7 linked regions of the Homo sapiens genome follow. The protein of the gene in region 5 purifies or fractionates together with the protein of the main gene of each other region. This does not show direct contact. Each region holds a gene or a part of one and is shown on either strand. Other genes may lie near its edges.

Region 1 (4,704 bases), on a different chromosome or scaffold from region 5:
AGTTCTTGATCCTCATCTTACTTAACCTGTCAGCAGTATCTGACACAGGTGTCACTGGCTCCTCCCTGAGATGCTCTCTTTATTTGGCTTTTGGGACACCATATTCTCCCCATTCCTACTTTCCTCAATGGCCCTCCTCAGTCTCCTTTGGAAAGAGGAAAAAGAAACTTCATTATCTCCTGGATGTAGTACAAACAACTCAAGCTCAACATGTGCATACTGAACTCCATTTCCTTTTCCCAAACTTCGACATTTACAGCCATCCCCTTTCAGCTGATAGCAAGTTTATCCTTCCAGCTACTCAAACCAGAATCTTTAGAGCCATCCTTGACCCTTTTCCTCCTCTCACACTCAACATCTATCCATCAGAAAATTTTGTTGGTTCTACTTTCAAAATGCATACAGAGTCAGAGCATGTCTCATTACCTCCAATAGCTACCATACTAGTCTGAACAAACATCATTTCTCACCTGGGTTATTGAACAAACATCATTTCTCACCTGGGTTATTGATAGCATCCTAACGGGTCTTCCTGTTTCTTGGTTCCCCTATATTAGCAACACAGCAGTCAGAGGAGTCCTTTTAGAACTCAATCAGATCATGTCACGTCACTCCTCTACTTAAAATCCTTCAATGGGTCCCATTACACAAAGAGTACAAACCAGAGCCCTTACACTGGTCTACAAGTTCCAACATTTGACTCCTGTTATCTCTCTGACATCATATTCTAATATTACTGCTGTTGTCCTTTTGCTCCAGTCACACTGTTTGATTAGTAAATATTTATTAAACAAAGCAATCCTAGTCTCCAAAGAGATCATAGTTTATTGGAGGAAACAAGAGCCTATAAATGGTTACACACAGAAGGTAGTGATTATGGTTCTCCCTCACCTCCCATCCTAAACTTTGACAGGTGAAACTCCCCTGGATGTTGAAGGTTGAGGAATTTGCCAGGGTTCAGGGTGGTGTTGGAGGAGGCAGGGAGGAAGCAAGGACATTTCAGGCAGGAAGAACATTACATGCAAAGATCTAAAGATATGAATCAGCAACATATTTATGGAATTACAAGTAAAGTAGAAAGTTCTTGCTAAAACATCAAAAAATAAAGATTTGTGATTAGGGGGCCAGAATGTGGGAGGGAAAGAGAGATACAGTTCACACTTTAGACAGGAGCCAGATCATGAAATGTTTTCTCTTTGTTTGTTTCTTCCTTCACAGCTTTTGATATGCTCTTGGAGCAATTTATTAACCATATTTTTTAATGCATCTCCTGAACAGAGTCAAAGCAATACTTGGAAAGGACTCTGAATTTCCTGATTTAAAGATACAAAAGAAAAATCTGGAGTCACAATTAATTTGAGAAGGTAAAGGAGTGGGTGTGCTACTGTATCAAATTTAATTTGTACAAAATCATCATCTCTAGTAACATTATTTTTTCTAATCTACTGCGTTTAGACTACTTTAGTAAAGCTTGATCTCCCTGTCTATCTAAACACTGATTCACTTACAGCAAGCTTCAGGCTAGCATTGGTCATATTAATACCCAACAAATCCACAAGGTGTTAGTTGCACATGATTTTGTATAAAAGGTGAACTGAGATTTCATTCAGTCTACAGCTCTTGCCAGGCAAGGCAGCCGACCACAGGTGAGTCTTGGCATCTACCGTTTTCAAGTGGTGACAGCTACTTTTGAAATTACAGATTTGTCAGGACATGGAGGACAAAACTAGAGCTTCTCACTACTGTTGTGTAGGAAATTTATGCTTGTCAACCTGGCTTGTAAAATATGGTTAATATAACGTAATCACTGTTAGCAAGTAACTGACTTTATAGACCAATATGCCTCTCTTCTGAAATGGTCTTATTTTAAACAAATGTGAGCAAAAGAAAATATTTATGAGATTCTAAAAATGAAGACATAATTTTGTAGTATAGAATTTTCTTGGCCAGGAATGGTGGCTCATGCTTGTAATCCCAGCACTTTGGGAGGCCAAGGTCAGAGGATTGCTTGAGCCTGGAAGGTTGAAGATGCAGTGATTCATGATTATACCACTGCACTCCAGCCTGGGCAACAGAGCAAGACCCTGTCTCAAGAAAAGAAAAGAATTTTATTTTTCTTTTCAGACAAAAATAGACTTTAAAATAATAATGGAAGAACAAATATGATGATCACAATTATCAGAGTAATTACTTTATGACAGTCAGCAATAAGATTCTAATCTTTAAATATTCCTCTGCTTAAATCATTATATTGGAGTTTTGATCTATAATATATTCCCACCCTGACCCAAAAATTGAAGAAGGACAAGGAAAAATGTTGTTCCAAGAAACAAAGATGTAAGTAAAAAGGCATAAGGAAGGAAAAAAAACTTTTGAAGCAAAATGTGATTGAGGAGGATGAGCAGACCAATTATTTTTGGTTTGGTCAGCTTACATAATGATTATCGTTCTTTGGTTTCTCAGTTTCTAGTGGGCTTCATTGTTTGCTTCCCAGACCAGGATGAAGACACTCCAGTTTTTCTTCCTTTTCTGTTGCTGGAAAGCAATCTGCTGCAATAGCTGTGAGCTGACCAACATCACCATTGCAATAGAGAAAGAAGAATGTCGTTTCTGCATAAGCATCAACACCACTTGGTGTGCTGGCTACTGCTACACCAGGGTAGGTACCATGTTTTGCTGGAAGCAAGGGTGTTGAAGGTCTGTATTAGGCCGGTTTCATTAGTTTCTACTTTATCAATATTTTATGTATTCTAAGTAACAGCCATGAGTCCTTTAGCCAAGACTGTCTGTGTTGTGATTGGGGTTAATGACCACGATATCACTTAGATGTTTGGGCTTGGATTTGATTTGGGTAAATTTAGGAAAGCCTCAGATTTAATCTGATCAATTTGGTACTAGTCCAACTTTGCATCTACAGGGAAAAAGTATTTCTATGTTACGTTTTTACACATAGAGAGATAAACATGGAAACATACATATATTTAATCATAAAGGACCTATAATATTCTCATAAAGGCAATTTCTTTAACTGACACTACATCTTTGACACAAAATCACACCAAAATATGTCTCCAAGTCACATAAAAACATAGACAGCCACTTAAAAAAATTGTCTTCCTGGCCCTACTAAATACAAATGCCAAAAAACAGCCTGAGAACACAATCAATTCTTGCAGACTGTTAGAACAAAAATGAATCAGCAAACCCACTCCCTTCGTTATAGCATTGAGAAAACCAAGACATAGAGGCATCAGTTGCTAGTCTGTGTTTGCAGTTTCCTTGCATTAATACAAGTAGAGAAATAGTTTCCATGGTGCTTTCTTTTTTCTCTGCAGCACCCCTAATTATCTATGCAGAATTTCATTCTATAAACTAAAATTGAAAATGGCAACTTTTTAAATGAACGATACTTTATTTGACGGTAAATGAGTTTGATCAAACTCCATTTATTACACAATTTATTGCACCTTCTTGGGATATACATTTGGTAGGATGATATTAAAATAAACAGAAGCCCCAATTTCTCTACGCAGTATAAATAATTTTTCCACTGGAAAGTGCTACTACAAATAATTTCTACCTGGATTAAAAATTCTTATATGCAAACTGCATATCCTTTGAAACTAGGAACCCTGCAAAGTATACAGCTTTCAAGGGAGAAAAATGTCCACAAGGAGTTGGAATATTTAAAATCTTATGTTAGCCTTAGCAAACATGTTAACTTAAGCATTAAAATTTAAAATTATATATTTTTGACCTTTTATAAATACTCAGGGCAGTGTATTTTAAAATATTTTTTCTGAGACATTGGATATCTTTGTTTATGGTTTGTTATTAATACAGCTTTCAATTAAATATGAAAAGTCAACTTAAAATCCTGTCATGTTTTTCATCATTTTTCTATGCTAAAATTCAAAGTTCCTTTATATTTTGAAAAATAGTTAATATTTTGATATAGCCATAGGAAGTAAGAAAAGAAATTACTTGTATTTTCTGGAAGATTTCAAGAACAATTTAGAAATGTAAATAGCATATAGGTCATTTATGAGGTCATGTTTTAATGGGTAAATGTTAGAGCAAGCAGTATTCAATTTCTGTCTCATTTTGACTAAGCTAAATAGGAACTTCCACAATACCATAACCTAACTCTCTTCTTAAACTCCTCAGGATCTGGTGTATAAGGACCCAGCCAGGCCCAAAATCCAGAAAACATGTACCTTCAAGGAACTGGTATACGAAACAGTGAGAGTGCCCGGCTGTGCTCACCATGCAGATTCCTTGTATACATACCCAGTGGCCACCCAGTGTCACTGTGGCAAGTGTGACAGCGACAGCACTGATTGTACTGTGCGAGGCCTGGGGCCCAGCTACTGCTCCTTTGGTGAAATGAAAGAATAAAGATCAGTGGACATTTCAGGCCACATACCCTTGTCCTGAAGGACCAAGATATTCAAAAAGTCTGTGTGTGTGCAATGTGCCCAGGGGACAAACCACTGGATCAGGGGATTCAGACTCTACTGATCCCTGGTCTACTGGCAGAGGGAACTCTGGGAATTGAGAGTGCTGGGGGCCAGGACTCCATCATGATTCAGCTCTATATTCCTAGGTCTGATTTCATAAGGTTTATTCAGTCTTAACTCACAGACTTGTGCCTGGTTTCTTCTTTAAAAATCTTAGAAATCTTCTCAGGCAATGCCTCTCTCT
Region 2 (4,054 bases), on a different chromosome or scaffold from region 5:
AGCCCAGGAGTTCAAGACCAACCTGGGCAACATGGTGAGACCCCATCTTTATTTAAAAAAAAAAAGTTACATTGTTAATGAGATGTCCTATTCTAACCCATCAAGATCATTTTGTTTTCTAAATAAACCTGCCATCCAATTTTCAGGAATGTGGATACTAGATTAACATCATCTGTGAATTAACAACAACATCATCATGCTATGTGTCCTCATTCAAACAACTGATTTAAAAAAAAAAAACAGGCAGAGTGCTACATCCCAGCTGTTGACAAGGATTCAATTAGTGTTTATGGCGCTCAATTACAAATCAGTCTAATTGTATTATTCTCCAGTCCACATTTCTTAAGTCCTATTCTTCAAGGATATCTCATGAGGGACTTTGCCAAATACCCTAATATCCAAATATATCACTGGCTGCACTGCTTTAATATATAAATCCCACTTGGACAGAAATTCAATTTTCCTACCTAATGATATTCGCTGGTAAAAGAACCCTCACTGGAAGTTGCTCTTTAATTTGGGTGTTAACAAATTTTGTAAAGTTATTTTAAGGAAAATCTTAATCATACTGTGCTCAAGAAATGGGATATGTGGTCAAATTCTGAATTACCTAAAGGTTTACAAAACACAAAGCCCCGCCAAAACACGTAATTTGTGTTTAAATCTCCTAAGACATTTGTCCAATCCCTGCCTTATGACACAGCAATTAATCACCTTACAATGTAAAGTGCTGTACACAATTAAGGCTTTTAACAAAACCCTTAACAACATATTCTCTCAAATCCAGGAACATAAATATATTCTTAATATACAGATTGCCAAAGCTGAAATTTAGAATGTAAGTTTTTCTAATTGCAGGAAGCTAATGATAGCAAATGGGTAGAAAACCTAAACAGTGTAAGTCTGAGTACTGTAAAGTTTAAAAATTAACACCTGCATTTGGAATGTGTTTTTTTTTTTTGTTATTTACTCTGCTTTTAAAAGTAGAATGGAGATTCAGGGGGTAGGATTAGGAAGTGAATAGAGGCTAGTGTAAGGTGTTAGTGTAATTTAGTTTCTTAATTTATTTTCTATCTATAAATCATATCTTTCCCTTTGCTTTTCTTAATTCAAATGATACCTGAAGTAAACATTCCAGATGCAAAAAAAAAAAAAGATAAGGTTTTCAGTAGCAATAATTAGGGCCAATATTACATTACCTCACTTTCTCCCCAATTTTTACTGATTATTAGTAAATACTCTTAATTTCAAGTATGTACAGGGAACAGAACATAAGACACTGTTTCTTTTACAAGCTGGTTTTTGTTTCCTTTTAAGCCTGCACCCCACTGACCTAATTTTAGATTTTAATTTCAGCATTCCCTGAAATGAAAATCATCACCTTAATTAAGTTCTGACATGATTCAGAAGTTTCAGAATATAAAAACACCTCTTAATTAAAAGCCTGGTGAAACAAAGCATTTTAAAATGAGTATTTCACAAAAACATTGTTATTTTAATATAAAATTTAAGATAAGGTTCAAGACCATGCAATGATACACAACTTTTGGAACAAAACTGATTTTCCACTAGGGTAAAACTACTATTTTAAAACCAGAATAGTACAATGATATATAATATATAATTCTCTCCCATATGTATGCATCTATATCTTAAAATTATTTATGACTATTGGATATGCCTGGCACTATAAAACATATGCCAAAATAGAACTTTTAAAATGACAATGTAAAAAACAAACATAAATAGAAACCCTAAATATTTTTCCTGTACATGGTGAAGCATGCTGTGGCTTCAACATGCATTCCCTGGAATATAATATCACCTGAGAGGGTTTGGCTTTTAAGATTTTATTACAGAAAATTTCCAATATATACAAAAGTACAGAGAACAGTAAAATCAACTCAGTGGTAGACCATAAAACATGGTAACAAATTCCTCCTATCCTTATAAGCATATCTCTTTGCAATGTAACTTTACTAAAGCTGCTGCTAGAGGTATAACTTGGTTTCTTCATCCCTCTCTCAGCAACCAATATAACTAGAAAAAAATAAGTGGAGGCACAGGCAACCTCAACATCATCAACCTTGATTTAACTGACACTTATAGAACATTATACTCAACAATGGCAAAATACATTCTTTTCAAGTGTACATGGTAAGTTCACCAGGATGTAGAAGGTCATGAAACAAATATCAGTAATTTTAAAAAGACAGAACTCTTACAAAGCATGTTTTCTGACCATAGTGGAATTAAATTACAAATTAGTAACTAGGAAAACCCCAAATATCTGGAGAGCAAAACAACACACTTCTAAATAATTCATGAGTTAAAGAAAAATCACAAGAGAAATCCAAAAATATTTCAAATGAAATGATGAAAATGCAACCAATCAGAATTTGTGGGATGCAACTAAAGTAGTGTTTTAGAGGAAATTTATAGTTTTAAATGCTTATATAGGGGGGAAAATCTAAAATTAGTGACCTAAGTCCCCATTTTAAGAAATTAAACCCCAAAGTAGAAGCAAAGAAATAATAAAGAACAGAAACCAATGGAACAGATACTTAAATAATAGAGAAATCAATAAAAGCTGACTCAATAAAATGACCAATAAAACTGGTAAGCCTATAGGCTAAACTGATCAAGAAACAAGAGAGAAGACACATATTACCAAATAAATGGCTATTACCAAAAAGACAAAAAAAAAAAAAAAAAACAAAAAAACAAATATTGACAAGGATGTGGAAGAAGAGGAACTCCTATACACTGTTAGTGGGAAAGTAGATTAGTTACAGCTATTATGAAAAACAGTACAGTGGTTCCTCAAAAATTTAAAAATAGAACTAGCAATGATCCAATAATCCCACTATTGGGTATATAGTCAAAGAAAATGAAATTGGTATGATGAAGATATACTTGCACTTCCTTGATTACTGCAGTACTATTCACAAGAGCCAAGCTATGGAATCAACCTAAGAGTCCATCAATGGATAAATGGATAAAAAATGTGCGGTATACAAACACAGTGGAATACTATTCAGCCACAAAAAACAAAACCCCAGAGAAAAGTCATTTATGACAACATGGATGAACCCAGAGGACATTATGTTAAGTGAAATAAGCCAGGCAGAGAAGGACAAATACTGTATGATCTCACTCATATGTGGAATCTAAAAAACTTGATCTCATAGAAATAGACGTAGAAGAGTGGTTACCAGAGGCTGGGGAGAATAGGGGGAGTGGGGAGATCAGAAGTGGCTATAAAAAGTTACAGTTAGGAGGTATAAGTTCTGATGTTCTATTGCACAATAGGGTAACTATAGTTAATAATGTATTGTATATTCCAAAATAGCTGGAAGAGATTATTTTTAATATTTTCACCACAAAGAAATGTTTGCGGTGATGGCTATGCTAGTTATCCTGATTTGATCACTTGAGCTGGGAAGGTGGAGGTTGCATTGAGCCATGACTGCACCACTACAGTCCAGCCTGGGCAACAGAGCTAGACCCTGCCTCAAAAACAAAAAAAACCCACCACCACCAACAAAACCCAAAAAAGACTGAAAATGAACTCAGTGGTAGACCATAAAACATGGTAACAAATTCCTCCTATTCTTATAAGCATGTCTCTTTGCAATGTAACTTTACTAAAGCTGCTGTTAGAGGTAAAACTTGGTTTCTTCATCCTCTCAGCAACCAATATAACTAGAAAAAAGAAGTGGAGGCACAGGCAACCTCAACATCATCAACCTTGATTTAACTGACACTTATAGAACATTATACTCAACAATGGCAAAATACATTCTTTTAAAGTGTACATGGTTATATCAATTATATACATTAAATTCATAATTATAAGCCTTCCTTCCCAACACACAAAAAACTCCCTCCCAGTTGGGAGCTAGGTTGCTTCATCGGTGAATTCTGAAAGAAAAAATAAAACAAGGCAAACATAAAACAAGAAAACAGAAGTATAGACTAATCTCTCTAATGTTCAAAAAGATACAAAATTTAACAAAATTTTAGGAAATTCAACCCAGCAATACATTAAAAA
Region 3 (4,054 bases), on a different chromosome or scaffold from region 5:
AAGATGCGTGGGAGGCTGCTGCTGCTGCCTAACTTCTAGGCCTCTTTCTGATGGCTATGGCTTCCATCCTGCCTCTGCCCCCTGAGTAGCTGGGACTACAGGTGTGCCTCACAGCCTGGAGCTTTCACAGCCAGATAACTAAAGGGGCCAGGCTAGGGCTTATATAAGAGAAATTTGGGAGGATTGAGATAAAGGGGATAGTCTTCTTGATCATCCAAAACAGCTCATCTACCTTCAAGTTTTTCTTTGGCTCTGCTCAGAGCTGGCTCAGGCCCCTGGGTACTGGACCTTTCAGTTCCCACTTTTTCAGGGGATTAACTAAGGCACCGTAAGATGCAACTCTCTAGAACCCTGTTTAAAGGCCCTGGGATTTAGTTGCCCCTAGGAAACCAGCCTTGTCTGGTTCCCTCTTCCCATAGGGTCAGTGTTCACAGCACTGTGAGGCAAGGTCAAGAGCAGAGGTGATGTGAAAGTTTCTTGTTCTCTCTACCTTTGGGCCCATCTCCCTGGGTCCAGCTACTCTGTGTCATTGGCTCCAGGGACCAGCGCATCAGCCAGGACGTGGAGCGATTCTGCCGGCAGCTCAGCAGCATGGCCAGCAAGCTCATCATCTCCCCGTTCACCCTCGTCTACTACACTTACCAGTGCTTCCAAAGGTGAAGCCTCCCTCCTCCCCAGCCTGGTGTTTCCCCAGAGGGCCCTCAGTCAGCTCTCCCAGGTCAAGGTCCAAGAGAAGCTTATTTCCCCTCTCTCCCACCGTACCTTACCACGTGCTCACCCATCCCACGTGCTCAGGCCCCTGCCCTTCCTTTGGCCCTGTGTTGCAGTGTCACAGATATCCTGGCTCTGAGAGCTCATACCAGATGCCCCCACATAGGAGCAGAGGGCCCATTGGGCCACTCAGATTGGACAGGGGCTACCTGAGAGGGAACAGGAGTCAGGGCTGAGGCATGTGGGGATAGGTGGCACCCCACACCCTCTCCCTTCTCTCCCTCTCTCTCTATTTCAGCACAGGCTGGCTCGGGCCTGTGAGCATCTTCGGGTATTTCATCCTGGGGACCGTGGTGAACAAAACTTTGATGGGCCCCATTGTGATGAAGCTGGTGCATCAGGAGAAGCTGGAGGGAGATTTTAGGTGTGTCTCCCTCACTTGAGGTTTCTGGGCTGGGGCATAATAGTTAAGGAAGGGGATCTGGAGTAAAACTGCCTAAGTTCAAATCCTAGCTGTGCCAGTTACTAGCTGTGTGATCTTGGAGAGGTCTTTAACCTCTCCAAGCTTCAATGTTCTTGTCTCTAAAGTGGAAATGGTACCGTTGCCTACTGAGAGGATTAGGAGGATTAATGAAATCATACCTGAGAAGGTCTGAGAACCGTGTCTGCCTGGCCATCACCATCGTCATTGTCATCTCTTGGCCTTCTCACTGCCCTGGCATAACCGCCCTGTCTTGGATCAGTTGGGTGTGGCAGCCAATGGATCCAGTGCCTGCCCTGTGCTTCTTGTCCCCCTCCTTTGGGCCAGGCCCTGGGAGGAGGAGATGCTGTGAGCAGGAATACCCCTGTCCTCTCTGCAGAAAGCTGAGGGGCAGCCCTGTCTCTGCAGAGCTCCTGCCACACCACCTAGCCCTGGGGTTTTCTACCCCATAACAGTCCAGGAAAGGGTCAGACTGAGGCAGCCACGGTTTTGAGGCAGAGCCGGGCTCCGCTTGGGCGGTCTTTGTGATCCAGGACTCCAACAAGAGTGAGGCCAGTACTCCCTGTTGTCAGCACACATTTCCCTTTGGTCCGCCCAGGTTCAAGCACATGCAGATTCGGGTGAATGCGGAGCCTGCTGCTTTCTACAGGTGAGTCTGGAGAGATGGTTCCCCTTCTGCCTTGCCAGAGCTGAGAGTGGAGAAGGAAAGATGAATCCTCAACCCTCCCACCACCACCGAGCTCAGGGGCTGAGTGTTGTCACACTTGGCTGTGACCCTCTCCCTCTACCTCCCCCTGCCCTTGCCTGCCTCATCCTTAGGTCCAGGGGTTTGCTTCTGAAGCTGGTGGTTCCTTACTGTGGCCAGCTTTAGTCTTAGTGGCCTAGCGTGGGGCCTGAAATTGTCAAATGAATGAATGCCTCATCCTCTTGCTGGTGACTGTAAGACATCCGTCTGCCTCTGCTCTTCTGTCTGTTAAGAAGCTTTCTTGCCAGTGCCTGAGGTTCAAGCCTGATCCTTTGTCTCCGTAGCGTGGGATGGAATGGGAGCTTCTCAGAAAACCAGGAGACCTGCTCCCCACAATGCTGTCTAATGGAGCCAAGCGTCTGGTCTCCTGACGGCAGCAGCAGGAGCAGCAGCAGCGGCATGAAATCCCATCCCTTCCCTCCAGGGCCAGAACCGGTCCCTGTGCTCTGCCTTATGTGAGGCCTCTGAAATCAGCGTTAGGATTGATAGTGCAGGCAGAGGTTTGCGTTTAAGAAGTGGAAGCTACTCCTTGGCTCTGTACTTGGGGTGGATGTGATAGCCCTGGGACCTTTGCTCCTCAGTCTCTGCTGCAGTTTGCAACCTCCACCACTTGAGGGCACCAAGAATACTGGGAATCTGCGCTGGGGTGGGGTTGTGAGGTGGGCAGGGCTGGGTGTGTAAAAAAGTTGCTTTTGGAGGCCGGGCATGGTGGCTCATGCCTGTAATCCCAGCACTTTGGGAGGCCGAGGCGGGTGGATTGCCTGAGGTCAAGAGTTCGAGACCAGCCATGGCCAACATGGTGAAACCCTGTCTCTACTAAAAATACAAAAAATTAGCTGAGCATGGTGGCGGGCACCTGTAATCCCAGCTACTGGGGAGGCTGAGGCAGGAGAATCACTTGAATCCGGGAGGCAGAGGTTGCAGTAAGGCAAGATCCTGCCATTGCACTCCAGCCTGGGTGACAGAGCAAGACTCCGTCTCAAAAAAAAAAAAAGAAAAAAGTTGCTTTTGGATTCTGCAGCCTCTGCTCATGAAGCTCTGGGGAAGGCAGGTTAGTTTGTAGAGTTTCAGATGAGTTCTTCTGTGGCCTCTGTGCAAAATCTGAAATCTCCCTCCACCTTTTCTGCCTAGCGAATTTCTTCCCATCCTTGAAACCCCAGATCACCTCCTCTGGAGAGCCTTCCCAGACTCCCTTAATGGCTAAGCCTATCTGCTGCCATGGCCCTGAGGGCACACTTAGTACTCCTGATTCCAAGTGAAGAATGCAGTGTGCCTGCCTGCCCTCTGGACTGAGAGCTCCTCAAAGACAGAGATAATTTTCTCATTTCTTTATTGCACTAGCTAACTAGTGCAATGCCTGGTACACCTAGTGACCGCTCTGTGTATGTTTATTTAACAATAGTTTTTATTTATTGAGGGCTCCTTATGTGCTTGGCACTTTATATTTAGAAACTTTTAATTCTAACTCTAACCTATTACATAGGTATTATTGGCTCCATTTTATAGATTAAAAAAACTGAGGCTTGGAGGCTTAAGTAGCCTGCCTGTGTCACGCAGCTAGTAACTGGCCAGAGCCAGGATTTGAACTAGGTCTGCCCAACTCTAGAGTTTATGTTCTTCACACAGACAATACCATTAAGGCATGACTGAAGCCGTGAATGGGCGCTACCAGTAGACAGATCCTGAGACCAAGATCATTTGAATGGCCTTGGTTTCTAAAGGAGGGTGTGATATGGGACAGGCGGCCCCCCAACCTGGCTGAACCTCTCCAGCCCTGTGGACATCCCAGCCTTTCCTTGTCAGAGCTGGGCATGTGGAGCACATGAGGACAGACCGCAGGCTGCAGAGACTCCTTCAGACCCAGAGGGAGCTGATGTCCAAGGAGCTCTGGCTGTACAGTAGGCGAGGGGGCCCAGGGAAGTGGGAACCATGGGGTTGGACTGGTCTGCTTCCCTTCCCACACCTCTCTACCTCCTGTCTGCAAGGATAAATGTGCCATGATGAAGGAATTAACCGGGGATGAGGAGGGGGGGCTGTTGCCTTTCTGTGAGTATCCTCAGGAGAATGAGGATCCAGAGAGTCCACGTGGCCCTACTTGGCGTCCTGCTCCCTGTCTT
Region 4 (4,054 bases), on a different chromosome or scaffold from region 5:
AATAAATAAATAAATATGTAGTTTGTTCTTTGCTGAGTGGTATTCCATTGTATGAATGCATATATCTTTTAAACTTCATTATTAGGTGCAGACACATTTAAGATTGTTATATCTTCTTAATGAATTTATTCTTTTATCATTATAAAATGCTCCTCTTTTATCTTTGGTAATTTTTAGTCTTGAAGTCTGCTTTGTCTGATGTTAATATAGCCACATCATCTTTCTTTATATTTGAGTGTTCATTTGTATATCTTTTTCTATCTGATTGAAATGTTTAATGTATTTCTAGTAAGCAGCACATAGTTTCTCTCACTTTAAAAAAACCTAATTTAGTAATCTTTGCTTTTTAATTGGTATCTGTAGTACATTTACACGTGATATATTTATTATGTGTTTATTGTTAGGCCTTACATCTTGGTGTTTGTTTTATATTTGTCCTGTATATTCTTTGCCTTTCTTTTTCTCCTTTGCTGCCTTTCTTGAGGTTATTTTTTAGTATTTTATCTTTCCTATTTTTTTGAGTGTGTTCTGTTACTTTTTTGATTGATCAGAGATTTTCTTTTTCATTTATCATAGTCCTAATTTAAAAACATTTTACTGCTTCAGGAGCAGTGTAAGAACCTCAGTGTACCTCAGAGCATCCTCTCCTGCCTATTGTGCTCCTGTTGTCATGTATTTTAATTCTGCATAGGCTATAAAACCACAGTACATTATTTCTTCACTAGTCATCAGGCTTCTACACATGTGTGGAATGCACACACACATTCATTTTTAAAGGTTCTTACAATTATTGGCATATTTACTGTCCCGGTGCTCTTCATTTCTTTCTGCAGAACCAGGTTTCTAATATTGTTTCTTTCTGCTGAAAGAAATCATTTTCACAGTTCTTAAAATACAAATATGCTGGAGATAAATTTTCTTAGCTTTTGTGTGTCTGAAAAGATGGCATGATCATGGCTCACGAAATACAGCCTCAACTTCCTGAGCTCATTCATCCTCTTGCCTCAGCCTCCGAAGTAGCTGGGACTACAGGTGAACACCACCATGCCTGGCTAATTTCTTTGTAGAGACTGAGTCTCACTATGTTCCCTAGGCTGGTCTTGAACTCCTGGGCTCAAGCGATCCTCCTGCCTCAGCCTCCCAAAGTGCTGGGATTACAGGCATGAGCCACCACACCTGACCTTTAATCAATTTTGAAAATTCCTGGCTGTCTTTTCAAATATCCTGCCCCATTTTCTCTTCTTTAACAACTCCAGTTATATGCATGTTAACTCATACAGGAATGGCAATTATATTCTGTTGCCTCACAAATCTTATATCCTGTATTCCAGCTTTTTTTTTTTAACTCCCTTTTTTCCCCTTTATGTTTCAGTTTGAATGATTAAGAAGTAAAAGGTAAACTCCTTATTAACACATCCTGAAATAAAAAGAAAAAGCAATTGGTATTTTGGCTATCATAATACTACCATCTTTTATTTTGGAATAAACATTCATTTGTTCAAACTCAGTTCTGCCACTAGTTTGCAGCGTTCATGATAGAAATATTGTTTAAAAACATTGATTGGGACTAAAAAAAGTCTTCATTTTTATTTTTATTTAGTAAATCAGATCTCAAAATAATAAAAGACTTTTGGTATAATAAATTCAATATTCTTTAAGGAAACTATTAGAAGTGTGTTTAGTGTTTTGAATTTTAGCAAAATTTGTATTGGTATTTATGTATTTACATATTTTCTATTAATGTATAAAAACTGGTTGATTGCATTTCTCTTTTATTGAGTAGTTATTTTATTCTCAAATATTTTTTAAAAACTTAGATGAATTAGATTGCTTCTAATTGCTGCTGTTAGTATTGGCTACAATTAGAATGGGACTGAAGCTTTTATGAATAATTATATATTAAAATTATTTTTTCTTATTCATTCCCTCATTTGTTAGAGGAATTTAATGATAGAATTTTACGACCAGAATTATCAAATGATGAAATGCTGTCTCTTCATGAAGAATTGCAGAAGATTTATAAAACATACTGTTTGGATGAAAGTATTGACAAAATTAGATTTGATCCCTTCATTGTAGAAGAGATTCAAAGAAGTAAGTCAAAGACGATAAGAATGACTTATTTAGCACTCTTACAGTTTTTCCATTTATTTTCTGTTTATTATTGCAGTGGCTAGCTGCAGTACATGGGCAGCTATTATTCTATTTTACTAATGAGATGAAAGCTTTAAAGAAAAAACTTATTTATACTTTATGTATTTGTCAGAACTAGAGCTTGGTTGGTCTAATTTCTCAATCTAGTGTGTTTCAGTGGAGTTTCAGTAAAACGTTTTAGAACTGTATATATTTATGCTATTTATAAATAATTTCTACAGTAGAATTTTTTTAATAGTTGCTGAAGGCCCATACATAGATGTTGTGAAACTTCAAACTATGAGATGTCTTTTTGAAGCATATGAACATGTTCTTTCCCTTTTGGAGAATGTATTTACTCCTATGTTCTGCCATAGTGATGAGGTAAGTCAAAATATTAACCTTGTTTGAGGATTTTTATACATAATTTAATAGTAGCTTTGATATCATTAGATGAGTGATTCAAATAACAAAATAAATAGAAAAATAAGACAAGATTACTGGGCACAGTTGCTCACGCCTATAATCCCAGCACTTTGGAAGGCTGAGATGGCTGAATCAATTGAGTTCAGGCATTCAAGACCAACCTGGCCAACATGGTGAAACTCCATCTCTACTAAAAATAGAAAAAATTAGCTGGGTGTGGTGGCACATGCCTGTAATCTCAGTTACTCAGGAGGCTGAGGCAGGAGAATAGCTTGAACCCAGAAGGCCAAGGTTGCAGTAAGCTGAGATCACACCACTACAACTCAAGCCTGGGCCATAGAGCAAGACTCCGTCTCAGTAGAAAACAGAACAAAAAAACCAAGATTAAGAAAGTAAATATTCTTTTTCGCTATGTAATTAAGTGAAGATTAAAAAATAATTGCAAAGGCCGGGTGTGGTGGCTCAGGCCTATAATCCCAGCACTTTGGGAGGCCGAGGCGGGCGGATCACAAGGTCAGGAGATCAAGACTGTCCCGGCTAACACATTGAAACCCCTTCTCTACTAAAAATACAAAAAACTAGCTGGGCGTGGTGGCGGGCACCTGTAGTCCCAGCTACTTGGGAGGCTGAGGCAGGAGAATGGCATCAACCCGGGAGGCGGAGCTTGCAGTGAGCCGAGATCGCACCACTGCACTCCAGCCTGGGCAACAAAGCGAGACTCTGTCTCAAAATAAATAAATAAATGAATAAATAAAATAATAATTGCAAAAACAATTATCAATACCAAAACCTGTTTATATTTGTGTAAGTAGATAGATTGGGACCAAATAGGTCTGCCTGGTTTGCCATATGCCTGAGTGGCTTTGTAGTACTGCAGTGACGCAGAAATCTCATTGTATACACGTTATTTACAAACCTGTGGAAATCATCTGCATTTGCAATATTTTCATCCTTACCCTAGTTGACCATGTCTGTATTCACTTGATTGAGATAGCTTTTTTTTTTTCCCAAAACTGGAAAGTAGTAAACTAAGGTAACATGTTTTAATGTTAATTGTAAGTGTAATAAATGATAATTATTATTTGTTATTTTAAAGTATTTCAGACAACTTTTAAGAGGTGCAGAATCACCAACACGCAATTCAAAATTGAACAGGTAGGTTGTATGTTTTGTTTTTGAACTTGCTGATGCCAGTCATTCTATGATAGCATCATTGTCTTTATTAGCTATTTTTCTGAATGAATATGTGGTTCCATTGTTATATGAGTTCACAAGGCATTTTACTAGTGAATTGTAGAACTGTATTCTATATGGTGATCTGAAAATGCCTGAAATTCTTTTAGAAAAATTTTAACAAGATACATAATGTGGCCTTGTTAATCTCATAATGAATATATATTAGTTTTGATTACCAGCTTTATTGGAGACTAGGGACTGAATGCATAAGTGGCATCCACAGATAACTCAGAATTAAACGTTTTAGAGAAAACTTTTT
Region 5 (4,054 bases):
CTCTCATTTTATTCTTCAATTTTTAATGTTAAATACAATAAAAATTGTGTTTCTTCACAACTCAATGTTGTGAAGGCCATTTCTTCACAATTCAATATTAAATTGACATGCTGTTGCATATGCTTCTAAGTACCCACACAGGGCCTAGACCTCAAGAATTCCATAAGTAACCACCATCATTTGTCTTCATACTGCTGACATTTGCCAAGTATTCACTACCAAGCACTGTAATACTCTGTATCTTTATTTCATTTAATTCCCACAATGGTAATATCATTATTATTCCTTTCTCACAGAGACAGAAACTAAGGCTCAGAGATACTAAATAACTTGACCTACACTGACCAAACAGATCCAAATCTGGTCTGCCTGCCTCCAAAGCTTAGGCTCTGCGACACTGCTATGCCACCCCCAAGCATCTGTTCACTGACTGATCAGAGTCCAAGAGTGCCACTTTTTCAACTGACCCTAAACTGAATTCCCAACTCCTTATGATAATTAGGATTTTCCAAAGTACTGCGGAGGCAAGACTTGATGTCCTTTGGTTTCCACTTTTGTTTCTGTTCTTATCTCAGAGACATAAGTTATTTACTTTTCTCCTTACTTCATGTCAGTGGGTCACTTCAGTTTCAGAAAAAGAGAAGCACAATATTTAAAATATATGGACAGCAGTATCAACAATAAGAACCTTCACAGACAGCGACCATAAGCCATAGGAAGTGAAGGCTGTTTCTAGAGAGTTAAGTCAGAGCTCAGTCCAATGAACCAAACTGCAGTCAGCAAGTACCAGGTTACTTACTTTCTCTTCCTGGAATCAGGCTGCAACTAATTCAGTAACAGGGTTTAAGAGTCTAGAGTTAGACTAAGGACCACAGGATACCCCTCTTCTCCCCTCTATACCCATTATGGAGCTTGCCTCACCTTTCTTGGAAGACCATTGACTAAACCAGAACATTTTCTGGGCTCCGTTTCCATTCACTTTCAATTCTGTGTATGTTAATCATTTAGCCTTAAAAAAACAAACAAACAAAAAGAATCCCTTAGGCCAAGAGAAAATGACTTCCTGGCAATTCAATTCACTTCCCAGGGGTGAGAGAAGAGAGGAGAGCACTCTTCCTAACAGACCCTTCTCATCCAGGTTGATGGGGCAAGGTTCAGTCCCTGTATAATAGGTTGGAACACCTGGCAAGACTCATCCTTTAGCATCAAATGGAGTCTTTACCTCCTCCACTCCCCTAGCCACCTTTTTCCTTCTTAAGAAGGTTTGATACTTACTTCGCCACTTATATCTGAGGTTATGTCAAGGTTTAAAAAAAATACAGTCAACTTAATATTGCTGTGAACTTGCCCCTTGGGGAAGGAGGGAAAGGTATGCATGTGTATGTACAATTTTTTTTTTTTTTTTGCATCCAAAAAGGTCCTAACGTAAGGCTTATTCCCATTCCACAAGCCTTTGCTTCCAAACAGAAGTATTACCTTTCTTGTTTCTACATCCAGAGTATTGATATACTACTCTGGGGTAGAATATTTATGGGTATACTCGTGGATTGAATATTTATCACCTGGATTTCATTCAAATCCCTCTGTAAGTACCTCTATCCTGTTGACAAGGCCCCTTGTACATTTGGGTTTAAAGGCAAAACCAAGACAGTAAAGTGAGCCCAAGGAGAGCTAGGCTGCCCAGAGGATGAGTTCCATTCTTAGAATAAATTAGGTCCTTTTGCAGCTTGCATTGTTCTTTGGGGCACTCACTAGGAAACTGTTCAATATGAGAGAGCCAGGCTTACCTTGCAGACAAGCACATGCTGAGGCCTATTGTGGCCCCCAGAAAGTGAGATAATAAAGAACAGGAAAGACCCTGGTAACATTTCCGGCAAATTAGCTGGCCTCCTAATAGCCTGAGTACCAAAGAGCCAGGGAATAGGGGCTGGCTGGGAACTAACTACAGATTTTGATCCCCTAATTTATGTAGATAAGAGAAGCAAATAAGTTCTCATTTGAGTCAGCGAACAGTCTGGATCTTCCAGTGATTTGAGTGTAGACGAATAGGAATATGTCCTACTCAGGTGTATTAAGAGATAGCTGGATCAAGATGGGAGAAGGAAAAGGGTCGAGTTGATGCCAGCTCTGTAAATTATTTTCACTTAACAGCAAGGCTTAGTCTCAGGTGCCTTCCTCCCCACATTCAGGTTGTGGCAAGATGGTTTCCCCAGTGAGCCATCCAACTCTAGTAATATATATACAAGTTGTTATATTCATTTACAGTAAGCAGCATTAACCCTTGAGGTTAGCCTCAAGGGCAGGTATGATGTGAGAAGAAAAAAAAAAAATCTCAGGAAGAAACTCATCATTTCTACCCTGCACAAAGACAGTGATGTATTTGCTATACTGGATCTGAGATGTTGATTCTATTTCTTTTTGTATTTTTCTAGCTCTGAGCTTCATCCAATTTGCAACAAATCTATTTTAAGGCAAGAAGTTGATTATATGACTCAGGCTAGGGGTCAGAGATCCTCTCTGGCAGAAGACAATGAGTCCAGCTACAGCAGAGGATTTGACATGACGTACACTGAGTTTGACTATGACTTATGCAATGAAGTGGTTGACGTGACCTGCTCCCCTAAGCCAGATGCATTCAACCCATGTGAAGATATCATGGGGTACAACATCCTCAGAGTCCTGATATGGTTTATCAGCATCCTGGCCATCACTGGGAACATCATAGTGCTAGTGATCCTAACTACCAGCCAATATAAACTCACAGTCCCCAGGTTCCTTATGTGCAACCTGGCCTTTGCTGATCTCTGCATTGGAATCTACCTGCTGCTCATTGCATCAGTTGATATCCATACCAAGAGCCAATATCACAACTATGCCATTGACTGGCAAACTGGGGCAGGCTGTGATGCTGCTGGCTTTTTCACTGTCTTTGCCAGTGAGCTGTCAGTCTACACTCTGACAGCTATCACCTTGGAAAGATGGCATACCATCACGCATGCCATGCAGCTGGACTGCAAGGTGCAGCTCCGCCATGCTGCCAGTGTCATGGTGATGGGCTGGATTTTTGCTTTTGCAGCTGCCCTCTTTCCCATCTTTGGCATCAGCAGCTACATGAAGGTGAGCATCTGCCTGCCCATGGATATTGACAGCCCTTTGTCACAGCTGTATGTCATGTCCCTCCTTGTGCTCAATGTCCTGGCCTTTGTGGTCATCTGTGGCTGCTATATCCACATCTACCTCACAGTGCGGAACCCCAACATCGTGTCCTCCTCTAGTGACACCAGGATCGCCAAGCGCATGGCCATGCTCATCTTCACTGACTTCCTCTGCATGGCACCCATTTCTTTCTTTGCCATTTCTGCCTCCCTCAAGGTGCCCCTCATCACTGTGTCCAAAGCAAAGATTCTGCTGGTTCTGTTTCACCCCATCAACTCCTGTGCCAACCCCTTCCTCTATGCCATCTTTACCAAAAACTTTCGCAGAGATTTCTTCATTCTGCTGAGCAAGTGTGGCTGCTATGAAATGCAAGCCCAAATTTATAGGACAGAAACTTCATCCACTGTCCACAACACCCATCCAAGGAATGGCCACTGCTCTTCAGCTCCCAGAGTCACCAGTGGTTCCACTTACATACTTGTCCCTCTAAGTCATTTAGCCCAAAACTAAAACACAATGTGAAAATGTATCTGAGTATTGAATGATAATTCAGTCTTGCCTTTGAAGGGTATGTCACAAAGAGCTGACAGTGCTTCTACACATTTCATCTAATTTAATATTCCTGGCATACCTTTAAGGTAAATTGGTCAGGAACTATTAATTCCATGTGATACATTAGGAAGCTGAATTATTAGTAACAACAATAATAATTAAAGAATGCAATACTGTATTACATATTTTATCCTTATATATGTTATTTTTGCACGTTATGTTCAAAGTGCTTTTGTTCAGATATCTCAAGTGATCCCTGTTAAATAAGCAGGACAGGGATTATTCTTGGAGTTTTACAAATGAGGAAACCACGACTCAAAGAGTTAAGTGACTTGTTCAAAATTGT
Region 6 (4,725 bases), on a different chromosome or scaffold from region 5:
TCTCCTTTTCAGGCATATACACAGTGGGCTCCATGGAAACCGGCACAGGGAGGAGGGGGCCTTATCTAAAACAAACCCACAGTTACACAAACAAGAGAAGCAGCGATTTGCACTTGCCTAGAGACATACCCACAGCTGCATAACATAAGGGGAGCTGCACAGGCAGTTTTACTGGTAAGAAGTTACTCAGTTACCAGGAGGAGAGCAGTGTCCTATAAAAGTTTTTTGCGGCCAGGCACAGTGGCTCACGCCTGTAATCCCAGCACTTTGGGAGGCGGAAGGAGGCGGATCACCTGAGGTCAGGAGTTTGAAACCAGCCTGGCCAACATGGTAAAATTTCGTCTCTACCCAAAATACAAAAATTAGCAGGGCGCAGTGACGTGTGCCTGTAATCCCAGCTACTCGGGAGGCTGAGGCAGGAGAATCATTTGAACCCAGGAGGCAGAGGTTGTTGAGGTTGCAGTGAGCCAAGATCGCACCATTGCACTCCAGCCTGGGTGACAAGAGCAAAACTCTGTCTTAAAAAAAAAAAAAAAAAAAGCTTTTTGCATTCAGCTGTAACCCGACAATCCACTCGGACTCCCGTCTCCACTTTGGAGAGCTTTCTTCTTTCCCTTATTAAACGTTCGCTCCAACCCCACCCTTGTGTCCACGCTCCTTAGTTTTCTTGGAGGTAGGACAAAGAACCCCGGGACTAGTTCAGACAAGGAGAAACTGCTATATTAAGGTGCACTGGCAAGACCGCAACAGTATCAAGCCAATTAGACTTGCCGTGGCTCCTGGAATGGCCCACGCACTGCACTGGCACCAAGACACCACCCAACCCTGGACACTGCACTGGGACAGGAGGCCTGAAGAGAAGAATCCTCTCAAAGGAAGCTTGAAGTACATGCTACAAAATAAACTGGCTTCTATACTCAGGGCCAGCTTCATGGGCTCACTCAGAAGGTCCCTGGCTTGCTGCAACCATTTGCTCTGACCATCTTGAAATTCTTAATAGTTTTCTGGGTTTTTTAGTAAGTGTCCCCACGTTTTCATTTTGCATTGAGTCACACAAATCATGTAGCTGGGCTGTCTTCAAAAATGTCAAGGTAGTAAAAGACAAAAGGCTGAGGAGCCTTCCAGATGAAGAGATCAAAGAGACATGACAACTAAAAGCAACTCCTGGGTTACAGGGTCAGGGGCGGACAAAAAGGAAAAGAAAAAAAAAGACATTAGAGGGACAATTGAAGGTTAGCTGTGGATGACATCACAGAAATGTCAATGGGAGTTGTCCTAATGATATTTGCCCTGTGGTTAAGAAAATGCCCTTGTTCTTAGGAGATTCATGGCGAGGTATGGGGTAAAGGATCATGACATCTGCAATTTGGTTGCCATTGGTTCAGGAAAAAAAAAAAACAAAGTACAAATGATTGAGTAAATCAGGCAAGCCTAAACCACTGCTAAACATGAATAACAGTTCTACGAGAGTTCTTTATGCTCTCCTTGCAACTTCCTGTAGGTTTGAGATTACCTGGAGATAAAAAGTTAACATCACCAGCACCGCCCGCCAGCCCGCCAGCCGAAAAGAGCGCAGGTAATTCAGTCCGAGCTGAAAGCGGCCACCCTGGGACTTGAGTCACGTGAGGCGAGCCCACATGACCCGAGGCCCCGGTCCAATATGGCGACCTCCACGGGTCGCTGGCTTCTCCTCCGGCTTGCACTATTCGGCTTCCTCTGGGAAGCGTCCGGCGGCCTCGACTCGGGGTGAGTGCAGCTCCCTGGGCCAGCCTGGTTCGGGGGGTCCCCCCTGTCCTCCGAGCTCACGAGGACAGCCCCCTGAGCTCACGGCCGCCCGTCCCCGCAGGGCCTCCCGCGACGACGACTTGCTACTGCCCTATCCACGCGCGCGCGCGCGCCTCCCCCGGGACTGCACACGGGTGCGCGCCGGCAACCGCGAGCACGAGAGTTGGCCTCCGCCTCCCGCGACTCCCGGCGCCGGCGGTCTGGCCGTGCGCACCTTCGTGTCGCACTTCAGGGACCGCGCGGTGGCCGGCCACCTGACGCGGGCCGTTGAGCCCCTGCGCACCTTCTCGGTGCTGGAGCCCGGTGGACCCGGCGGCTGCGCGGCGAGACGACGCGCCACCGTGGAGGAGACGGCGCGGGCGGCCGACTGCCGTGTCGCCCAGAACGGCGGCTTCTTCCGCATGAACTCGGGCGAGTGCCTGGGGAACGTGGTGAGCGACGAGCGGCGGGTGAGCAGCTCCGGGGGGCTGCAGAACGCGCAGTTCGGGATCCGCCGCGACGGGACCCTGGTCACCGGGTGAGGAGGCAGGGAGCCCCGTGCTGTCGAGGGCAGAGGGCCTGAGATTTGGGTTGTAGCCGTGCCTCCGTGTTCAAGTCACTTAACCAAGCTGAGCCCCTGTTTCCTCCTCTGCAGAATGGGGATAGGAATCGCTTCCTTGCAGAGTTTATTCATCATCCAGTATCATTGAGCACTTGCTTGTATCAGGCAATGTGCCGCGCCCCGGTGAGATAGCCGTGAACAACACAGTCTTTGCCTTAACAGCCCTCCCCCATTACTAGAAAAATCAACAAAAGCCGGGTAAATAGCTAACATACATTCTGATTGCTGTGTGTGCAGCAAAGCAACCAACGGGGTGAACCCGTTGTAAATAGTGTTGATTTTAGGGAGGGTGATCTGGAACACGCCTCTCCGAGGTGACCTTTGAGTGGGAACTTGAAGATGAATCACTAAGTGAGCCAAGGTCAGAACTGGAGGAAGAGCGTTTCAGTCCAAAGGAACCCCACGCACAAAGGCTCAGAGGCTCAGGGGGGCTTGTGTGTATGAGGGACTGAAAAAGGAGTGGGGTGTCAGAAACATCAACTCATCAAGACTGATGATTTTTTTTTTTTTGAGACAGAGTCTTGCTCTGTTGCCCAGGATGGAGGGCAGTGGCATGATACCGGCTCACTGCAACCTCTGCCTCCCGGGTTCAAGCGATTCTCCTGCCTCAGCCTCTGGAGTAGCTGGGACTACGGACGTGTGCCACCACGCCCGGCTGATTTTTGTATTTTTAGTAGAGACGGGATGGGGTGGGGAACGGGGGAGTGGGTTCACCATATTGGCCTGGCCGGTCTCGAACTCCTGACCTCAAGTGATCCACCCACCTCAGCCTCCCAAAGTGCTGGGATGACAGGTGTGAGCCACCACGCCCTGGCAAGATTGATGATTTGAATTATTTAAAATTATCTTAAAAATTATTTGAGTCTCAAAAAAAAAGTATTTGTTGATGATAAAGCTTGTTCTGATCCTGAGTGGGACCAGGTGGGAGAGAGCAGTGGAGAAACAAGGAAGCCAATGAAGGGCCGTAACAGGGATCAAGTGGTAGTTGGGCTGGGTATGGCCTGGGGATTGAGGGCCATAGATGGATTTGAGCTCTGTTGGGGGATGGTCATTTCTGTTAAATGAAACAGACTGTTTGCAAAGGCTTGTGGGGATTGTATTGTCAGAACCCTGTCCAGCTTCAGCTCTGACAACAGGGAGATTCCTAGGGCTGTTAAGTTGTCCCAGCTACACTCAGGCCCCAGGAGGTTCCTGGGGCATGAGGGGGAATCTAGCAGCCAGGTTGGGATGGCTAGGGAGAAAGAGCCTGACTATCTGCAGTTGCCCCTGCTGGTGAGTGAGCTTCCCACCTTCCCCGGATCCAGGTACCTGTCTGAGGAGGAGGTGCTGGACACTGAGAACCCATTTGTGCAGCTGCTGAGTGGGGTCGTGTGGCTGATTCGTAATGGAAGCATCTACATCAACGAGAGCCAAGCCACAGAGTGTGACGAGACACAGGAGACAGGTTGGATGGGGAGGCTGTTGGCAACAACCCTCTCGAGAACCAGGACCAGTGGGCTGGGCGGAGCTGTTCTTAAGTCTTTCAACAAGTATTGAGCAGCTACTTTGTGCCCAGCACTATTCTGGGTACTGGGGATTCATGGGGAGGAAGATAGGCTTATATTGAATATATAGGACAAAAAATAGTTATAGAATATGCTGAAAAGAATTGATAAGTGCTCAGAAACAAAAATAAAGTTAGGGGAAAGGGGAGAGATGGGGACCGGAGCTGTGGGTACAGGAAGAGAAAAGTGAAGAGAAAAAAATCTTCATGGACCTGCAACATCGGCGTGGCCCAGGAGCTTGTTTCAAAGCCCCACACCCTCAGACCTGCAGAATCAGAGGCAAGGCCCAAGAGTCTATGTTTTAACGGGCCTCCATGGTGACTCTGACCGACACTCAAGGTTGAGAACCACTGGGATGCAGAATACTGGGATGGGGACAGGATACCATGACCATTTTAGAGTGGGCAGTAAGCTAGGTGTGGTGGCTAACACCTATAATCCCAGCACTTTGGGAGGCCGAGGCGGGAGGATCGGTTGAGCCCAGGAGTTCAAGACCTGCCTGGGCAACATAGTGAGACCTATCTCTACAAAAAAAAAAAATACAAAAATTAGCCAGGCATGGTGGTGTGTGCCTGTAGTCCCAGCTACTTGGGAGGCTGAAGCATGAGAATTGCTTGAACCTGGGAGGTGGAGGTTGCAGTGAGCTGAGATCATGCCACTGCACTCCAGCCCGGGCAACACAGCGAGACTCTTTGTCTCAAAAAAAAAAAAAGAGTGGGCGGTCAAGGAAGGCCTCACTAAGGAGGTGATCTGACAAAGGAGCAAGCTAGAGAAAAGCACAGTTCCCAGCCAGAG
Region 7 (4,054 bases), on a different chromosome or scaffold from region 5:
CTAGAAAGTGCTCCCTTAGAGACAAGAACTGGTATCTTCAAAAATCCAGTGGTGAGTGAATACTGTTGTTCACAAAGATGCCATCACACTAGACTTATTCTCTATATTATAGCTCAGAGCTTGAAAATGGAAGTTTTTTGGTTTTGCTTTTTTTTTTTCATTTCTGAGAGTACTATTTATAAAAAATAATGGAAAAAAACTTAAAAATCTGCCTAAATAACTTGGCCATCACAGAGAGAGCAGGCCATATTAACTACATGATTTAGTGTTTCAGGTAATACGATCTGGGTTTCAGATATGACCAAAATCCTGGTTATGAACATGGGTGTATGATACTGTAGCCACAGGTAGCATCTGCAGCAAAACTAGCCTGAACTGAGATGTGTTTTCAGTGTTAAATACATACCAAATTTCTAAGATTTAGGATGTAAAACATCTCACTAATTTTTTAGGTTAATCACATGTCTGGTAATATTTTAGATATACTGGATTAAGTAAAATTAATTTTATCTGTTACTTTTCACTTAATGTGGCCGCTGGAAAAACTTCGATGACATATAAGGCTTCCATTACATTTCTAAGGGACAGCACTGCTTTAGAGCCAGAATGTCTCAGTTTATTCCTGGCTTCGGCATTTCTTAGTTATGTGACCTTAAGCAAATTTTTGAGCCTCTGTACCTCAGTTTTTTCAGCTGTAAAATGAAAGTAACTATTCACACCCTCCACTGTTGTCATGAGGAATAAATGTCATGAGGAATAAATGTGCTAATATATGTAAGACATTTACAACTCACTGGCACATGAAAAGTGCTCAATGAACGTTAGCTTCAAAAAAGGTAACTAGGACTATAGCAAAAATTAGGATATAGCTTCTTCCATTCATTAAGCCCATCCTTTTCATTTATTATGAACCTTATCTGAGAATTAAGTTCTTATTAATAAAACCTGTTCTTTCACTATGTCCTGGACCTTTTACAGAAATGGGCTCATGGTTCTTATAATCCTATTGGTCCTGGAATAATTTCCACCAAAAAGATCAAAGGAAAATATATGTAAAAGTACTGTGAAAAACCACAGCACATCAAAGTGAAAAGAAAAACTACAGAATGGGAAAAAAGTATTCACAAATTCTATCTAATATGGATGTAGTACACAAAATATACAAAGAACTCTTATAAAACTCAACAGAAAGACAACCCAATTAAAAAATGGACCAAGGACTTGAAATAGACATTTTTCCAAAGATCATATACAAATGGCCAATGAGGACATGAAAAGATGCTATGTGTTACTAGGGAAATGCAAAACAAATCCACAATGAGATATGTCACTCCATATTAAGATGGCGTGCGCACGCATGCACACTGTCTCACAGATGTTTATATATATATGATATATATGATATATATATGATATGATATATGATATGATATATGATATATATATGATATATCATATATATGATATATATGATATCGATATCATATATATGATATATATGATATATATATGATATATATATTTAATGGAAAATAAGCGTTTAGCAAGGATGTGAAGAAACTGGAACCCATTGCTGGTGGGAATATAAAATGGTTCAGCTGCTGTGAAAAAATAGTTTGGCGGGCTCCTGGGTAGTTACCCAAAAGAATTAAATACAGGTGTTCAAACAAAAACTTATACGCAAATGTTCATAGCAGTCCTTTTCGTGATATCCAAATGGTGGAAATAATACAAATGCCCAACATCAAATGAATGGATCAACAAAATGTGGTAGAGTTGAGCATTCCAAATCTGGAAATCTCAAATGCTCCAAAATCTGAAACTTTTTGAGTGCCAACTTGATGCTCAAAAGAGATGCTCATTGGAGCATTTTGGATTTTGGGATGCTCATCCTGGTAAATATAATGCAAGTATTCTAAAATCTGAAAAAAAAGCTGAAATCCAAAACAATTTCAGATACAGGATACTCAACCTGTATATATATATGATGGAATACTATTTGGCCTTAAAAAGGAACAAAGGACTGATAAGTGCTACAACATGGATGAATGATGAAATCATTGTGCTAAGTGAAAGAAGCCAGGTACAAAAGGCAACATACTGTAGGGTTCTGTTTATATGAAATATCCAGAGTAGGCAAATCCATAGAGACAGAAGACAGACTAGAGATTGCCAGAGGGTGGGAGGAGGAATGAGTAACTGCTTAATGGGGATGGAGTTTCCTCTGGGATGATAAAAATGTCCTGGGACTAGATAGTGGTAATGGCTGCACAAAGTTATGAAGACACTTAACATCACTAATGATAAATCTGACGTTATGCATACGTCACCACAGTAAACATACCCCTGCAGTGGAATAGGTTCTGAGACCATTTAGAGGTCACACAGAAAATTAGAAGATTTAAAAAGAAAAATTGATTCCCAGACAAGGTGCCTGAATAGGAACAGCTCCAGTCTGCAGCTCCCAGTGAGACCAACACAGAAGGCAGGTGATTTCTGCATTTCCAACTGCGGTACCCAGCTTATCTCACTGGGACTGGTTAGACAGTGGGTACAGCCTATGGAGGGCAAGCAGAAGTAGCGTGCGGCATTGCATTACCCAGGAAGCACAAGGGGTCGGGGAACTCCCTCCCCTAGCCAAGGGAAGCCGTGAGTGAGGGACAGACCTATCCAGCCCAGATACTAGGCTTTTGCCACTGTCTTTGCAGCCCGCAGACCAGGAGATTCCATCGAGTGCCTACACCACCAGGGCCCTAAGTTTCAAGGACAAAACTGGGCGGCCATTTGGGCAGACACTGAGCTAGCTGCAGGAGAATTTTTTTCGCACCCCAGTGGCGTCTGAACCTCAGCGAGTCCCAACTGTTCACTCCCCTGGAAAGGGGGCTGAAGCCAGGGAGCCAAGTGGTCTTGCTCAGTGGATCCCATCACCACGGAGCCCAACACACTGAGATCCACTGGCTTGAAATTCTCACTGGCAGCACAGCAGTCTGAAGTTGACCAGGGATGCTCGAGCTTGGTGGGGGGGAGGGGCATCCGCCATTACTGAGGCTTGAGTAGGTGGTTTTCCCCTTAGAGTGTAAAGAAAGCCATCAGGAAGATCATACTGGGCTGAGCCTGCCGCAGCGCCATAAAACTGCTGTAGCCAGACTGCCTCTCTAGATTCCTCCTCTCTGGGCAGGGCATCTCTGAAAGAAAGGTAGCAGCCCCCAGTCAGGGGCTTACAGATCAAACTCCCATCTCCCTGGGACAGAGCACCTGGGGGAAGGGGTGGCTGTGGGCGCAGTTTCAGCAGACTTAAATGTTCCTGCCTGCCAGCTCTCAAGAGAGCAGCAGGTCTCCCAGCACAACGCTTGAGCTCTGCTAAGGGACAGACTGCCTCCTCAAGTGAGTCCCTGACTCTGGTGGTTCCTGACGGGGAGACACCTCCCAGCAGGAATCGACAGACACCTCATACAGGAGAGTTCCAGCTGGCATCTGGTGGGTGCCCTTCTGGGATGAAGCTTCCAGAGGAAGGAGCAGGCAGCAGTCTTTGCTATTCTGCAGCCTCCACTGGTGATACCCAGGCAAAGAGAGTCCGGAGTGTACCTTCAGCAAACTGCAGCAGACCTGCAGAAGAGGGGCCTGAAGGAAAACTAACAAACAGAAAGCTATAGCATCAACATCAACAAAAAGGATGACTACACAAAAACCCCACCCAAAGGTCACCAGCATCAAAGACCAAAGGTAGATAAATCCACAAAGATGAGGAAAAAGCAGCACAGAAAGGCTGAAAATTCCAAAAACCAGAATGCCTCTCCTCCTCCAAAGGATCACAACTCATTGCCAGCAAGGGAACAAAATTGGACGGAGAATGAGTTTGAAGAATTTACAGAAAGAGGCTTCAGAAGGTGAGTAATAACAAACTCCTCCAAGCTAAAGGAGCATGTTCTAACCCAATGCGAGGAAGCTAAGAATCTGGATAAAAGGTTATAGGAACTGCTAACTGGAATAACCAGTTTAGAGAAGAACATAAATAACCTGATGGAGATGAAAAACACAGCACGAGAACTTCGTG

The links.
Region 1: the proteins of FSHR (region 5) and FSHB fractionate together in Homo sapiens (co-fractionation; one study listed by IntAct). This does not show direct contact.
Region 2: the proteins of FSHR (region 5) and PDZD8 purify together in Homo sapiens (affinity purification with mass spectrometry; 2 studies listed by BioGRID and IntAct, with this or other methods). This does not show direct contact.
Region 3: the proteins of FSHR (region 5) and ABCD4 purify together in Homo sapiens (affinity purification with mass spectrometry; 2 studies listed by BioGRID and IntAct, with this or other methods). This does not show direct contact.
Region 4: the proteins of FSHR (region 5) and SNX14 purify together in Homo sapiens (affinity purification with mass spectrometry; one large-scale study listed by BioGRID and IntAct). This does not show direct contact.
Region 6: the proteins of FSHR (region 5) and NAGPA purify together in Homo sapiens (affinity purification with mass spectrometry; 2 studies listed by BioGRID and IntAct, with this or other methods). This does not show direct contact.
Region 7: the proteins of FSHR (region 5) and APPL2 purify together in Homo sapiens (affinity purification with western blotting, with the first as the bait; one study listed by BioGRID). This does not show direct contact.

What each region holds. Positions count from the first base shown.
Region 1 is NC_000011.10:30,229,403-30,234,106, forward strand, and holds the start of FSHB (follitropin subunit beta precursor), read left to right. Parts: upstream 1-1,611; 5' UTR 1,612-1,646; exon of another isoform or gene 1,647-1,676; intron 1,677-2,463; 5' UTR 2,464-2,500; coding exon 2,501-2,659; intron 2,660-4,167; coding exon 4,168-4,398; 3' UTR 4,399-4,704. UniProt on the Homo sapiens protein: Together with the alpha chain CGA constitutes follitropin, the follicle-stimulating hormone, and provides its biological specificity to the hormone heterodimer.
Region 2 is NC_000010.11:117,291,630-117,295,683, forward strand, and holds part of PDZD8 (PDZ domain-containing protein 8), read right to left. Parts: exon of another isoform or gene 1,835-4,054; intron 1-1,834. UniProt on the Homo sapiens protein: Molecular tethering protein that connects endoplasmic reticulum and mitochondria membranes. PDZD8-dependent endoplasmic reticulum-mitochondria membrane tethering is essential for endoplasmic reticulum-mitochondria Ca(2+) transfer.
Region 3 is NC_000014.9:74,292,935-74,296,988, reverse strand, and holds part of ABCD4 (lysosomal cobalamin transporter ABCD4), read left to right. Parts: intron 1-539; coding exon 540-656; intron 657-1,009; coding exon 1,010-1,135; intron 1,136-1,790; coding exon 1,791-1,841; intron 1,842-3,740; coding exon 3,741-3,835; intron 3,836-4,054. UniProt on the Homo sapiens protein: Lysosomal membrane protein that transports cobalamin (Vitamin B12) from the lysosomal lumen to the cytosol in an ATP-dependent manner. Targeted by LMBRD1 lysosomal chaperone from the endoplasmic reticulum to the lysosomal membrane.
Region 4 is NC_000006.12:85,541,645-85,545,698, reverse strand, and holds part of SNX14 (sorting nexin-14), read left to right. Parts: intron 1-1,938; coding exon 1,939-2,094; intron 2,095-2,392; coding exon 2,393-2,517; intron 2,518-3,655; coding exon 3,656-3,714; intron 3,715-4,054. UniProt on the Homo sapiens protein: Plays a role in maintaining normal neuronal excitability and synaptic transmission. May be involved in several stages of intracellular trafficking. Required for autophagosome clearance, possibly by mediating the fusion of lysosomes with autophagosomes.
Region 5 is NC_000002.12:48,962,345-48,966,398, reverse strand, and holds part of FSHR (follicle-stimulating hormone receptor isoform 1 precursor), read left to right. Parts: intron 1-2,432; coding exon 2,433-3,666; 3' UTR 3,667-4,054. UniProt on the Homo sapiens protein: G protein-coupled receptor for follitropin, the follicle-stimulating hormone. Through cAMP production activates the downstream PI3K-AKT and ERK1/ERK2 signaling pathways.
Region 6 is NC_000016.10:5,030,850-5,035,574, reverse strand, and holds the start of NAGPA (N-acetylglucosamine-1-phosphodiester alpha-N-acetylglucosaminidase precursor), read left to right. Parts: upstream 1-1,639; 5' UTR 1,640-1,660; coding exon 1,661-1,746; exon of another isoform or gene 1,747-1,846; coding exon 1,847-2,302; intron 2,303-3,690; coding exon 3,691-3,830; intron 3,831-4,725. UniProt on the Homo sapiens protein: Catalyzes the second step in the formation of the mannose 6-phosphate targeting signal on lysosomal enzyme oligosaccharides by removing GlcNAc residues from GlcNAc-alpha-P-mannose moieties, which are formed in the first step.
Region 7 is NC_000012.12:105,184,074-105,188,127, reverse strand, and holds part of APPL2 (DCC-interacting protein 13-beta), read left to right. Parts: intron 1-4,054. UniProt on the Homo sapiens protein: Multifunctional adapter protein that binds to various membrane receptors, nuclear factors and signaling proteins to regulate many processes, such as cell proliferation, immune response, endosomal trafficking and cell metabolism.